Linked DNA regions of Homo sapiens. The protein of the gene in region 4 purifies or fractionates together with the protein of the main gene of each other region. This does not show direct contact. Each region holds a gene or a part of one and is shown on either strand. Other genes may lie near its edges.

Region 1 (3,500 bases), on a different chromosome or scaffold from region 4:
GCAAAAAGAGTGAAACTCCATCTCAAAAAAAAAAAATTATTAACCCAACATAGGAGGTTATTTTCCTTAGATAAAGCTCATGCGTGGAAGCAATTGTATACAAAGACAGAATTATTTCCTATTTCAGTAAAATTTACAAACAAGCCTCAGCTAGTTCTCTGTAGGATCATCATTCTAGTCATTTTCAGAGTATCTTGCATTGAATTTCTGTACGTAAAATTATCTTAAGTTACTGAGAAAGTTTTATCAGATTTTACTCTGTGGTAAAATTTGTATATCAAACCTTTTATAGGTTCCCTGATTTCAAAATAATAGTAATATCTCTTAAATAGAATGTTAGTTTTTATTCTTTTTTATTAAATGTGTTTGTTCTAGAGGTCATGCTTAATGATTTCCAAGAGTATATTTTTTGTATAGTTTTTGTGAGGCTGGGCATGGTGGCTCACGCCTGTAATCCACATCTATAATCCCAACACTTTGGGAGACAAAGGTGGGTGGATTGCTTGAGCCCAGGAGTTCGAGACCAGCCTGGACAAGATAGTGAGACCCTATCTCTACACAGAATGAAAAAATTAGCGCACATCTGGGGTCTCAGCTACACAGGATGCTGAGGTGGGAGGATTGCTTGAGCCTAGGAGGTTGAAGCTGCAGTGAGCAGGGTTCACACCACTGCACTCCAGGCTGGGCAACAGAGCAAGACACTGTAAGATCAATCAATCAATCAATCAGAGATATCTTGATGTATCATTTAAGAATCATGATCAGATAAATGTACTCATTCTTGTATTTCATCATCAATGTACTTATATTTCTTGTCTTTAACAGTTTGTTATACAAAGAAAAGCTACTGCATTCAGTGTTCAGATTAAGTTATAACAATGCAATGACTTTATCATGAGCCATTCTCCTAATTCCCACTAATTGACACACATTCAGTAGATAAATTGTTGGATACTCTCAAACTATTCTATTTTTATAAAGGAGAAAATTTTAGATAATTATTAAATATTCAAAAATATACAAATTGAAATAGACATAATTTTTTTTTGTTTTGTTTTTTCATAGTGACAGGGTCTTGCTCTGTGGCCCAGGCTGGAGTGCAGGGGCGTAATCATAGCTCACTATAACCATGAACTCCTGGGCTTAGATGATCTCTTGCTTCATCCTCCTGAGTTGCTGGGACCACAGGCATATGCCAGCATGCCCAGCTAATTTTTTTTATTTTTGTAGAGGTAGGGTCTAGATTATGTTGCCAGGCTGGTCTCAAACTCCTGGGCTCAAGTGATCCTACTGCCTCAGCCCATCAAAGTGCTGGGATGTCAAGCCATGAGCCCGGCAGACATCAATATTGAATGTAATGATGTGAGCCTGTAGATGAATTGGGAAATGCTGGCTAAAACACTGCTTTTTTCATAGGTCCTAAAACTAGCTCTTAAAGTATATTTAATAAGCGGTAGAAATAGTCATTATTAACAATGGAATAAAAGGTTTTTTTTTTTAAAGAGTCTCAATCTGTTGCCATCTCAAAAAAAAATAAAAAATAAAAAATTAGCTGGGTGTGGTAGCGCATGCCTGTGATACCAGCTACTCAGAAGGCTGAGGCAGGAGAACCACTTGAACCTGGGAGGCGGAGGTTGCAGTGAGCCGAGATCGCGCCATTGCACTCCAGCCTGGGCAACAAGAGTGAAACTCTGGCTCCAAAAAAAAAAAAAGTGATTTGGCAGTATGAGTTCAAGAACCACAAAATTGTACACACTCTCTGACCAATTTTCTTTTTCTTTTTCTTTTATTTTGAGATGGAGTTTCGCTCTTGTTGCCCAGGTTGGAGTGCAATGGTGCAATCTGGGCTCAACACAACGTCCACCTCCCGGGTTCAAACGATTTTCCTGCCTCAGCCCCCCGAGTAGCTGGGATTACAGGCATGTGCCACCGTGCTCAGCTAATTTTTGTATTTTTGGTAGAGACAGGGTTTCTCCATGTTGGTCAGGCTTGTCTTGAACTCCTGACCTCAGGTGATCCGCCCGCCTTGGCTTCCCAAAGTTTTGGGATTACAGGTATGAGCCACTGCGCCCGGTCCAAATCACTTTTTTTTTTTTTGAGACGGAGTTTCTCTCGTTGCCCAGGCTGGAGTGCAATGGCGCGATCTCGGCTCACCGCAGCCTCCGCCTCCCAGGTTCAAGCGGTTCTCCTGCCTTAGCCTCCCTAGTAGCTGGGATTACAGGCATGTGCCACCATGCCTGGCTAATTTTGTATTTTTAGTAGAGAGGGGTTTCTCCATGTTGGTCAGGCTGGTATCGAACTCCCAACCTCTGGTGATCCGCCTGCCTCGGCCTCCCAGAGTGCTGGGATTACAGGCATGAGCCACCGTGCCCGGCCCAAATCACTTTTCTAAAGCACTTTGAAGAACAATATGTCTTCAGCACTTAAGTATTTCTTTGACAAACTTAATGCTACAAGTATTATTCTCACACTAAGTAATTGTGATTAAGATTTTTCAGGCTCATAAATGAAAGAAAAAGAAATTGTATAGTAACTAGGCAAGGGTGGAATGAGAAAAGACTGGAGGCGTGCCACTCTTCCTACTCAGAATTTTTTTTATTTTGAGACAGAGTCTCTCTCTGCCACCCAGACTGGAGTGCAGTGGCGCGATCTCGGCTCACTGCAGCCTCCGCCTCCCGAGTTCAAGTGATTCTCCTGCCTCAGCCTTCTGAATAGCTGGAACTACAGGCGCCCACTGCCATGCCCGGCTAATTTTTGTATTTTTTAGAAGAGATGGGGTTTCACTATGTTGGCTAGGCTGGTCTCGAACTCCTGACCTCAAGTGATCTGCCTGCCTTGGTCTTCCTACTCAGAAGTTTTAAATTCCTCCCTATTGTCTGAGACAATAGACCCTGTGAAGATACCTTTTTAACACTGAAAACCTTGAGAGACAGGACAGTAACATACTTTCAGAACATATTAATTGTGGGGGAGAAAAAGCAAAAAGCAGGTCCAGTAGGAATTCAGTAATATTTTAAAATGATACTCTGTTAAGTCTAACATCTATTATGCATTAAAAATATCAAGATATTATTGTGTACAGAGTGTACTTGATATGCATGGGAATTTGTGAACTCCTTAAGATCCTTGTGGAGCCTGCAGTTTCGGCCCTGCTAGTTTACAGTGGTCTTACAGGGCTGCTGTGCTATACAGATTGTACTGCACAATTCAGCTAACAGCCATTCATATAGACAGCAGTGAATCTACAGAGATCTGTATCCTGTGTACTTGGTGATGTCTAGCACATAGTAGGGACTCAGCAAATAGTTGTTGAATGAAAGTGTTTTATTTATTTATTTATTTATTGAGACAGAGTTTCTCTCTGTCACCCAAGCTGAAGTGCAGTGGCGTGATCTCAGCTCACTAGAACCTCTGCCTCCCGGGATCAAGTGATTCTCCCACCTCAGCCTCCTGAGTATCACAGGCATGCACTACCATGCCCAGCTAATTTTTTTCTTTTT
Region 2 (3,500 bases), on a different chromosome or scaffold from region 4:
AAATTATTCTAGCTAGCAGTGATTTTTCTGTCTTTGTATTCCTCTGGGGTTTATAGTGTACAATTACATGCTTAATTATATACTATTCCATATTCTTCAGTTGTCACATGATAATACTGTTTTCTCAGCTACTCTTTAAGCTCCTAAAGCCAGAATATTGGATGGTTACTCAATAAAAGTACTTTTTGTTAATTTTTAAAACTGTACTTCTGTATTATAAATTTCAAAATGAATTTGCAGTCAGTATTTAATTAGTACTTCAGAGGATGAATGTAATAGAGGCATCTTGTTGGGAAAAAAAAGAAATTTTAAGTAAATCACTGTAGATGGGTTGCCTTGCTGTTATCTCCCTCTCCGCAGACCTGTGTTCCTGCCTTTCATTTCTAGCCCTATTTGGTAAAAGATAAATGTGGCTGGAAGTATCTTATTTTTATCATTCCTAAGATAAACCAGAGTTGCTGATGAGAATAGCCAACAGTCACCTAGCTCCTTGGGACACACAGCAGTACAGTCCCAATTATTAATGTATGATATTTCCATACAAACACCCCTCTGGCCGAAAGAGCAAAGATGGTTAGGTAGTCAGAGGTCTCCTGGACAAAAAGTGTAAAACTAATTTTGACCCGTTCTGTGGAGCTTGCTTCCTCTTTTTCTCCCCAGGTCCCTCTCCTCCCATGTAATTGGCGATGGGGAAAGGGGTGAGGACATATACTAGGACCAGACAAGGAATTTGAAAGAGGGGTGCTTACAGATATGGTGGTTGTCAGAGCTTTTTCCTTCCCTTCCCAGTCTTGAGGACACACCAGCCTTAAGCAGAACGCTCATAAATCATTTTGCCATCATTGTGATTGTTTTTTATTATTGATGCTGGGTGATGAGTATATCAGGGTTCATCATACTTATCATTTCTACTTTAAGTGTTTCGAAATATCATTAATTTAAACTATTTTAATCATGATATATAGAATCCTTTCTGTCAATGATAATGACCTTAGCAAGTTATAAAGTTTTCTCAGACTTTTTAAAGATTAGTAAATTTTTTATTTCCATAAGGCTGCACTGTTCCCTAGACTATTTTGACTTCAGAGCCCATTCATTGCCAAGCTGTGATAATTTATTTTTCCTTAAATAAAATGGATTTTAGCAAGGGTTTTGGCAAAATACTGTGTTTTAATGATTAAGGTTACTATAACTGCCTCTCAAAATTTAATGTGAACTTGTATTTCTTATATCATTTTTTGTGTTTTCCAAAGGTTACAAAAGTGGATGAAACCAGAGGGATCGCACATGTTTATTTATTTACCCCTAAGAACTTCCCTGACCCTCATCGCAGTATTAATCGCCAGATTACAAATGCAGACTTGTGGAAGCATCAGAAGGATGTGTTTTTGAGTGCCATATCCAGTGGAGCTGACTCTCCCAACAGCAAAAATGGCAACATGCCCATGTCGGGCAACACTGGAGAGAATTTCAGAAAGAACCTCACAGATGTCATCAAAAAGTCCATGGTGGACCATACGAGCGCTTTCTCCACAGAGGAACTGCCACCTCCTGTCCACTTATCAAAGCCAGGGGAACACATGGATGTGTATGTGCCTGTGGCCTGTCACCCAGGCTACTTCGTCATCCAGCCTTGGCAGGAGATACATAAGTTGGAAGTTCTGATGGAAGAGATGATTCTATATTACAGCGTGTCTGAAGAGCGCCACATAGCAGTGGAGAAAGACCAAGTGTATGCTGCAAAAGTGGAAAATAAGTAGGTCCTTGGACAAAGCATTTTATTCTACTCCTAAGAAAAATGTGTAAAATGATGCCAGAGTCTTAATCTTGGCGGGGGGACTTCGAACTGTACTAATGGGAATTTTGAATGTGAAACAAACACAGTAATTTTTCCGATTTTCTAGTATTTAAAATGATGTCACTTATCAAAAAATCTATTGGCCATATTCCTGTTAAAACCCAATTATATAACTAAAATGAATGTTTAAATATTTTTTCTATTTTTCTATTAGAAAAATATTTTTATTCAGAAAATAACCAGATTTTTTCATTTAATGACTTTTTATTTTAAAAATAAAAATATTATGGAAAAATTTTAAAATATAAAAAAAGCATAAGAAATTAAAATCAACCACCCACACATAACACTTGTTAAACTACTTATGTATTTCCTCTAATTTTATATGTGCATATTTATATAGTTGGTATATTATTAGTATGTATAATTTTGTACCTGCTTTTTTCACCTAACATTATGTCATGAACATTTTTCCATGTGATAAAATTTCTTCAGGAACCTTTATAATGGCTATTTTAATCATGATATACAGAATTCCTTTTTCCCAATGAAATCATAATTTACTTACCATTCTATTTTGTTATGTAAGGTTTTCTCTCCTGTATTTTTCACTATTATAAATAATAGTGAATGTAAATCTTTGCATTTCTGATTATTTATTTACGGGATAGATTCCTAGAAGAAAAGTCACTTGTTGGAAGATGGCAAGACTCTTGCTTTATGTTGTCAGCTGCATCCTGGCATCTGTGCCATCTTTCATAAGGAGCAACAATGCTTATTTCACTACTCTTTGGCCTTGGGGCTGTGAGAACATACTTTCTCTTACATTTCTTTAGCGCTTCAGTGTTTTTTCTAATATTTTCACATTTGGGTCCACACCCTCCTCCCCAAAGCCCTGCAGGATGTGCTGGTTTCATCCAAGTGAAGCCCAGACACCCCACTGTCCACTTTCCACTCAGGCCATGAAGCCCTGGGAAATGGCACAATGCCCATCCTGTTCCTTTGCCAGCTTGCTTAGGAGAAATGAACAAGCTTATTTATCAATGCTGAACACAAAGAACAGTCACCCCTCCCCAACACACACACACACACACACACACCCCAAAACTCAGTTTAAAAGGTCAAACTGCTTATTTTTTATATGAAATGTTTTAATTCTTTAAGATAGCAAACATAGGCATGTATAAAGTTTTGTCATTTTCATGGGAGAAAAAAACTAATTTTTAACTCTCAGTGAAGCGTATAAAAGCTCTCATTTCGAAAAACATACAATTTGTATGTCATAAGCTTTTCTTCTCTAAAAAACCATTTCTACTGTTGTGTTATTTATAACCACAAGCATAAATAGGTTTAATTCAGCTTGTGTAGGTTTGCCTCAATCAGAGCTCTTTGTAAGATAATTCAATCACAGTTAAAAACCAAACTAATGTTCTGGGGGGCAGATTGATGATTAAAGGTGAGGAGATCCTCCTTGGAGTAAAGGGGTTGGGTAGGAAGGAGAACACATCAACTGGAGAGCTCCAATATGAGCCCTTGCACTCCCCACTCTGCCCTCCATGGCTTTGAACCATTCTGCCCCAGGACTCTTGGACTTTAGTTAATTTGTCCCAGATAATCAAGGGATGTTTTGTATATAAAAACAGATAATCTGATTTTTTTAAAACTTCATGAACTGAATCAGTATAAAATGTTTAGAACTTCT
Region 3 (3,500 bases), on a different chromosome or scaffold from region 4:
TTTTTTTCTTTCAGCTTTATGATTTGTTTGCTCATGTATGCTACCTTCTTTAATCCCCAGTTAAGTAACATTGACCCCATTAAGGGGCAAGTTCTCAACATGGAGATCTTGAAAAGAAGTCTGTCCTAGGAGAAAGAAGTGAAAAGAATGTTCATTGTTCGAGGCTGAAACAAATTATTGGATAAAGAACTAATTTCACTATGTTTTATGTCACATACTAAAAATTTTCACCTTTTTAATAGTAATTAAGGGCAAATCTTACAGCCCATTTACAGAATTATTATTGTATATTCTATATGTTCCCCAAAGCACTAAATGCGTTTATATCTACTATCTACACAACTATTGTACATCTAAAAGACATGTCTTCAAAACTTTTTTATAAAAATACAGTTAGAAGGAATAAGTTCTAGTGTTTGATAGCACAGTAGAATTACTAATTAAAAACAATTGTATTACCTATATCAAAGTAGCTAGAAGATTTAGAATGTTCTCAACACAGAGAAATGATGAATGTTTGAGGTGTGATAGATGTCCTGATAATTACATGGTATGCATGTATCACAATATCATATGTATCCCATAAATATGTACAATTATTGTATATCCATTTAAAAAGAAAAACATTCTATTTTGGAGAATATATAAGTTAAAAATTAGGAGCTGGGTGTGGTGGCGTGTGCCTGTTGTCCCAGCTACTCAGGAGGTTGAGGCAGGAGGAAGGCCTGAGCCCAGCCGTACAAGCTAGCCTGGGCAACATCTCTTGGTCTGTTTGTCTGTTTCTCTCTCAATCTCTCTCTCTCTTTTGAGACAGTGACTTACTCTGTCACCCAGGCTGGAGTGCAGTGGCACAGCCATGGCTCACTGCAGCCTCAACCTCCTGGGCTCAAGCATTCCCTCTGCCTTAGCTTCCCGAGTAGCTGGGACTACAGGCGCACTCCGCAATGCCCAACTATTTTTCGTATTTTTTCGCCATTTTGCCCAAGCTGATCTTGAACTTTTGAACTCAAGCAGTCCGCACGCCTCAGCCTCCCAAAGTGCTGGGATTACAGGCATGAGCCACTACACCCAGCCTCCAGACCCCTTCTCTTAAAAAAATTATCTGTACTGTGTTTGAATTCTTAGACACTCTGGGGTCATGTTTTGAGTTGTTCATTAAAATCACATAGAAGTCGGCCGGGCATGGTGGCTCATGCCTGTAATCCCAGCATTTTGGGAGGCTGAGGTGGGCGCATCATGAGGTCAGGAGATCGAGACCATCCTGGCTAACACGGTGAAAGCCCATCTCTACTAAAAATATAAAAAATTAGCCGGGCGTGGTGGCAGGCGCCTGTAGTCCCAGCTACTTGGCAGGCTGAGGTAGAAGAATGGCATGAACCCGGGAGGCGGAGCTTGCAGTGAGCCAGGATCGCTCCACTGCACTCCAGCCTGGGCGACGGAGCGAGACTCTGTCTCAAATAAAAAAAATTACATAGAAGTCTTGAGGTAGAAATATATCATGTAAGCCAGGCATGGTGCCTCCCGCCTGTAATCCCAGCACTTTGGGAGGCTCAGGTGGGTGGATCATCTGAGGTCAGGAGTTCGAGGCCAGCCTGGGCAGTGTGGTGAAACCCTGTCTCTACTAAAGGACAAAAATTAGCCAAGCATGGTGGCATGCACCTTTAATCCCAGCTTCTTGGGAGGCTAAGGCATGCCAGTCACTGGAACCCAGGAGGTGGAGGTTGCATTGAGCCAAGATCACATCACTGCACTCCAGCCTGGACAACAGAGTGAGACTCTTGTCTCAAAAAAAGCAAAACAACAACAAAAAAAGAGGCTGAGCACAGTGGCTCACGCCTGTAATCCCAGCACTCTGGGAGGCCGAGGCAGGCGTATCACCTGAGGTCAAGAGTTTGAGACCAGGCTGGCCAACATGGTGAAACCCTGTCTCTATTAAAAATACAAAAATTAGCCGGATGCGGTGCTGCGCACCTGTAGTCCCAGCTGCTTGGGAGGCTAAGGCAGGAGAATCATTTGAACCTGGGAGGCAGAGGTTACAGTGAGCCAAGATCACGCCGCTGCACTCCATCCTGGGCGACAGAGCGAGACTCTGTCTCAAAAAAAAGAAGAAAGAAATATATCATGTAAATAGTGTGTTGTGTGATGGGGTGGCTCTATTCATAAATGCATGTAAAATTTTTTCCCTGTATCATTGATACATAGTTTGGACACTGAGGCACTAGAAGTGAGGTTAATGAGTATTTTACTGTGTAGTGTATTGCAAATGTGATTCAAGTTCTGTGAATATTAAAAGTAAGAAAAGAGTTTTATTAAAAATATTAAAATTGCTGTGATATTTTGTATTTTAGAATCTTGTTGTTTAGGTTCATTTTAATAGGGAAATTAGTTTTTTCTAGGGGAAGACATTCATCCTTTTCAGAAGAGCTACTGTTCTTTGAATCTTATATAAACTTAAGATATGATATTAGATTATTTTTCCAAGCCTCCTTAGAAATATGCTGTCATATGAAGAAACTGTTCCTCTTTTGAGATTTATATTAATGAGACTTTTCTCCCTTGTTTTTAATGTTTTTATCTGTGGTGGGTGGAGAAGGTGACACTAAAGTAGCAAAGTTTTTCTGGTAAATAAAACACGTTTCCAAAATATCTTTCTAGCACATCAAAGCTGCCCAATGATCTGCTTGATTTGCAGCAGCCAACTTTTCACCCATCTGTACATCCTATGTCAACTGCTTCTCAGGTAGCAAGTACATGGGGAGGTAAGCATTGATGAATTCTATTTTAGATGTTACATGCATCTCTCCTCCTCATTCTGTGGTGTTTACTTATTTGTAGTTTTTTATTACACTTGATACATGAGAACTTGATAAGTATTAAAATGGCAATGAAGCAATTTTATCCCTTGAAGGTATGTTCATTTATTATAAATAATTTAGGAATTTATGTTCAATTAAATTATGAAATGACATTTAATAAAGATAAAACTAAATGTAAGAGGAAGGACCAAGTGTGTTTTTAACTATGAGATTATTCTTTTAATGTTGAATTTTTATTCCATAACCAGAAAATGCATGGTGGTTATTTCGATTTTGGTGTAGAATTTTTTTTTTTTAACTTTTGGGGAATAACTTATCTTTGTGTTAAGTATATGATATAGTTCTAATAAAACTCAGATGGTATTATCACACAGGGAACATGTTGTGACCATAATTGTCTCGACCAGCTTTATGGTCAAGACATAAATGTTTTAAATGTTTTTTTAATTAAGACCTGAAAGATTTTGCTAGTCAAAGAATTTTCCCCTTGTACCAATAAGAATGTTTGCTGCCCTTAAGCAGTTCTGAAGTGATAGGCTTATCTCTCATAGCAAGATAAGTTAATTATTCTAATGAGTTTTTATAGTATATAAACAAAGCTTTTTTTCATTTTATTTTAATGATTTGAATTTAAGAACATTTTAAATTATTTTTTTGAAGGAACTATATCCTAGAAAGTAAGCT
Region 4 (3,972 bases):
CACTCCAGCCTGGGCAACAAGAGTGAAATTCCGTCTCAAAAACAAACAAAAAATGCCACCGATATATGAATTTGGGCATTACATTTCCAACATGTGAAATTTGAGGGACACATTCAAACCATAGCAGAGGATCAAGTAAGTTAATAAACTGCAACACCGGTACCTGTGCATACTAAGTGCCATATACACGTTAATCATTATCATCATCCTTTCCTTGGAAATCACTGAGGCCAAAGGAGTGGGTGAGACCACCCAGAAACGGAGAGGGCTGAAGACAGAGTCTCAAGAAGCCATCATCTCAGGCTCTTGTGCGGAGAAGTAACAAAGAAACCAGCCGGGGGAGTGGGCAGCACTGCTCTGAGGTCACCGAAAGGAGAAAGATGAGCTGGAGAGAGCTTTATAATGGCTGCATTTGTTTGGATGCTAAGGAGAAGAGAGGCAGGCATTCCGCTGGAGAGAGGGAGGGATGCGTGGGGCAAGGCGGGGGCGGGGAGCCGGTGTAGACGGGTGGAGGGCAGACCGGTACTCTGGTCTATCCCCGCTTCCGGGACGCGTTTTCTAGGGAGGGCGGAGCGTGGATGGCGAGTATGGGGAACTCAGAGAGGGACAGTGTCTTGTCACAGGAAGGGAGGGTCAGGAGGGAAATTTGAAAGAAAACGTCTCTGGGAACCCAGGGCTCTGCACTGCCAGTCCCTGGCTCCTTCTGACAAAACCACTGAGCAAGAAGGAAAAGCCAGACCCCTTGGCAGGATGAGAGGGGTCTCTGCCCGCTGCCGGGCCTGGGGCCTGGGGCCTGAGCCAGGAGGCCTAGGTCCCAGGACCTCCGCCTCCACCCCATGGGTCAGAGCAGCCTGAACCCTGTGCGCGCTCCAGGGAGGGGACCCGGTGTGCGATGCGCGGGGGCTGGGCTAGCAAGGGCAGTGGCGCGAGCGGGACGCAGGATACAAAGCCCGGAGCCACGAGGCTGGCGGCGGGGCGGGGGCCGGAGCGATGAATGGGCACGGCCGGGCCAATCCAAGCGCAGCATTTGCAGCCGCGAGAGAGGGAGCCAATCGGATCCCCGGGGCGGTGGCGGTGGCGGGGGCGGGGACGGAACCAATCAGCTGTGAGGACGGGGCCGGGGGCGGAGCCGCGCAGAGTTTCAAATCGGCTGCGGTGGGCGAGGAGCAGCTGTGCTGCGGCTGTGCTCGGCCTTAGTGGTGTCGGGTGAGTGCGGGCTGGGCACAAGTTTCGCCCTTGTTGCCCAGGCTGGAGTGCAATGGCGCGATCTGGACTCAAAACAATTTTTTTGTTCGGAGGGGAGGGCATCAGGTTCTGTTCACAGGGGAGGGCATCAGGTTCGGACACGCACGGCCTGTGGGGTCGTCTGGGTACCACAAGAAGTCGGATCGAAATCGGGGCGTCTGGTGGGAAGGCCGGGGTCTGGGCGGGTGCGCGTTTGGTCTGGGCGAGCTGGTGAAGAAGATGGTGATCGTGTCCTGGGCCCAGCGCTGAAGCTCGGCTACGGCGTGTCTTGACCCTGCCTCCCCTCCTCGCCTGAGCCAGAGAGAGGAAGGAGGTTGGGATGAAAAGACAGCTGTTTTGGAAACTTGAAGGGCGGGACATCAGAAATGCTGCTGACCCGAGGCCCCTCTTCCAGGAAGCATCCTCCTTCCTGCACCCACACTTACCAACTCGCCCGCCCCCGCCACCCCGCTGCATCCCGTCTCTTCCCCTGTGTCCAGGGTCTCTGTGGGGCCTGGGAATGGGTATGGGGAATGCCTTGCTGATCTGCCTTTCGCCCTCCTCCCCAGGGTCTAGTGGACAGAGAAGACTCTTGGCCAGGCAGATGGCTTCTCGGTGGCAGAACATGGGGACCTCCGTGCGCCGGAGATCTCTCCAGCACCAGGAGCAGCTGGAGGACAGCAAGGAGCTGCAGCCTGTGGTCAGCCATCAGGAGACCTCTGTAGGGGCCCTGGGGTCCCTGTGCAGACAGTTCCAAAGGAGGCTGCCCCTGAGAGCCGTCAACCTCAACCTCCGCGCAGGGCCCTCCTGGAAACGCCTGGAAACCCCAGAGCCAGGTCAGCAGGGCCTCCAGGCTGCAGCTCGCTCAGCTAAGAGTGCTTTGGGTGCCGTGTCCCAGGTAATACTGACAACACTAATCATCTTTTTTATGGAGTGTTTCCTTGGTGCCAGGCAGTTCCTGCCCTCAAAGAGCCTCAAGAATATAGACTTCATGAAAACAGGGACGTTGGTTAGTTCACTGCTGTTTCCCCACCACCCCAGATAGTTCCTGGCACATATAGGTGCTCAACAAATAGTTGAATGAGTGAATGAAAGCATGTCTTGGAGGAAACAGATGCTCACAATACCAGGTGATAAGAGCTGTACGTGATAGGAAATTGCAAAGCAAGTGACCAATAGTGAGGCTCACCAAATGCAAGCTTAGTCGGTGAAGGCTTCCCAGAGGAGGTGATTCCAGAGTTCACCCAGGGAAGCAAAGGTCAAGGGGTATTTAGGGTAGGGGAAATAGTGCAAGTCCAGGCCTAGAGCTGAGGGAAAGCAAGGTGTACTGCCCACTCAGCTGTGTATCCCTGAGGAGAGCCAGAATTGTAGTCTGGGTATGAACAGATGACAGAGAGCAAGGTAGAGCAGGGGGAAAGGATATGAAGGAGCTTAGAACTCTCCCAGGAATGATCAGGAGTCCGGAAGATTCTAAACAGTGGAAAGTCTGGTCTAATTAGCATATTAGAATTTGCCCTTTAGCTACATGATGGAGAAGGGAATAGAGGCAGAGATGCTCCTGATGGAGACTAAGGGTTTGGACTTGCAGGGGATAAACTTCAGGAGCTGCCGAGAAGGTCCAGTTAGAGGGGATTTGCTGTCAAATGAGAGCTGCTGTCAGGAAGACGTCCTTATATTGGATGTAAGTGTCTGTGGACCCTTCAAGGGATGCATCTTTAAACCCAGAGCTGGAGGTGTAGACGTGTCACTTAGAAAGGACAGAAGCCATTAGGATGAACAGACCTCCAGGGAGAGGATTGGGGGCTGCAGAGGCTTCTCCTCGGTGTCTCATTGGGAATTCTGAAGATGAAAGAATTCTCCAGAAAGTGGGTGGCTCTTTCTGGACCCTCTGCAGAGAGCTCTCTGAGCCAAATGTTAGTCCTTATTTGGAAGCACTTTTTGATTGTTTTCACCACCCTCAGGGATCAGAGAAATGAAATGAATTTGTCCAAGGTCACATAACTCATCAAATTTAACTTGGGCTTCGCTCCAAACACTGGGCTCTGGCTTGTCAAGGCAAAGACAGTCTAGCTGATGAAGAAGAGCCTTCACGGCTGTCACCCGGCTGGTGTGAAAGGCCCAAGAGTTGGGGCTTGGTCCTATGGGCAACAAGAAGCCACAGAAGAGTTTTGAGCAGTTGAGTGTCACGGTCAGAACTGCCCTTTAGAAGGATCACTATGGACCACTGTGGAGGGTGGATAGAGTGAGTGAGACCCGAGGCAAGAAGACAGGTGCTCTCTTGGTGTACAGGGGGTGCTGGGCGGGGTGGCCTGTTCTTTTGGGGCCCTCTCCTTCAGTCCTGGGGTCACCGTCTGTCTGGAAAGAGAGTTTGGACTTAGACAAACAGGCTCCAGGCACCAGGGGGGTCCTCCTGCGGCTGACTGCTGCTGTCATATCCAAGAGCTCTGAGCTGGGTCCCAGCCGTGGACTCATTCCATGAGGAGTCATTCACATCCTTCACCCTGGAGACTAACAATAGCCTGTATTTACAGGACACTTGCTGAGTGTAGGGGTTGCTTGTATGGTCTGGAGACCAAGGTAGCTCACCCTTGGTTTTTTTTTTTGTTGTTGTTTGTTTGTTTTCGAGACAGGGTCTCACTCTGTCGCCCAGGCTGGAGTGCCATGGTGCGATCTCGGCTCACTGCAACCTCCGCCTCCCGGGTTCAAGCGACTCTCATGCCTCAGCCACCCAAGTAGCTGGGATTACAG

Evidence for each region. Proteins that work in one complex are often made in the same cells at the same time.
Region 1: the proteins of PIMREG (region 4) and ZYG11B purify together in Homo sapiens (affinity purification with mass spectrometry; one large-scale study listed by BioGRID and IntAct). This does not show direct contact.
Region 2: the proteins of PIMREG (region 4) and TDRD7 purify together in Homo sapiens (affinity purification with mass spectrometry; 3 studies listed by BioGRID and IntAct, with this or other methods). This does not show direct contact.
Region 3: the proteins of PIMREG (region 4) and PICALM purify together in Homo sapiens (affinity purification with mass spectrometry; 2 studies listed by BioGRID and IntAct, with this or other methods). This does not show direct contact.

Annotation. Positions count from the first base shown.
Region 1 is NC_000001.11:52,732,953-52,736,452, forward strand, and holds part of ZYG11B (protein zyg-11 homolog B), read left to right. Parts: intron 1-3,500. UniProt on the Homo sapiens protein: Serves as substrate adapter subunit in the E3 ubiquitin ligase complex ZYG11B-CUL2-Elongin BC. Acts to target substrates bearing N-terminal degrons for proteasomal degradation with the first four residues of substrates being the key recognition elements.
Region 2 is NC_000009.12:97,481,596-97,485,095, forward strand, and holds part of TDRD7 (tudor domain-containing protein 7), read left to right. Parts: intron 1-1,253; coding exon 1,254-1,756; intron 1,757-3,500. UniProt on the Homo sapiens protein: Component of specific cytoplasmic RNA granules involved in post-transcriptional regulation of specific genes: probably acts by binding to specific mRNAs and regulating their translation.
Region 3 is NC_000011.10:85,996,085-85,999,584, reverse strand, and holds part of PICALM (phosphatidylinositol-binding clathrin assembly protein), read left to right. Parts: intron 1-2,655; coding exon 2,656-2,759; intron 2,760-3,500. UniProt on the Homo sapiens protein: Cytoplasmic adapter protein that plays a critical role in clathrin-mediated endocytosis which is important in processes such as internalization of cell receptors, synaptic transmission or removal of apoptotic cells.
Region 4 is NC_000017.11:6,443,283-6,447,254, forward strand, and holds the start of PIMREG (protein PIMREG), read left to right. Parts: upstream 1-1,172; 5' UTR 1,173-1,206; intron 1,207-1,793; 5' UTR 1,794-1,828; coding exon 1,829-2,122; intron 2,123-2,128; exon of another isoform or gene 2,129-2,749; coding exon of another isoform or gene 2,750-2,905; intron 2,906-3,972. UniProt on the Homo sapiens protein: During mitosis, may play a role in the control of metaphase-to-anaphase transition.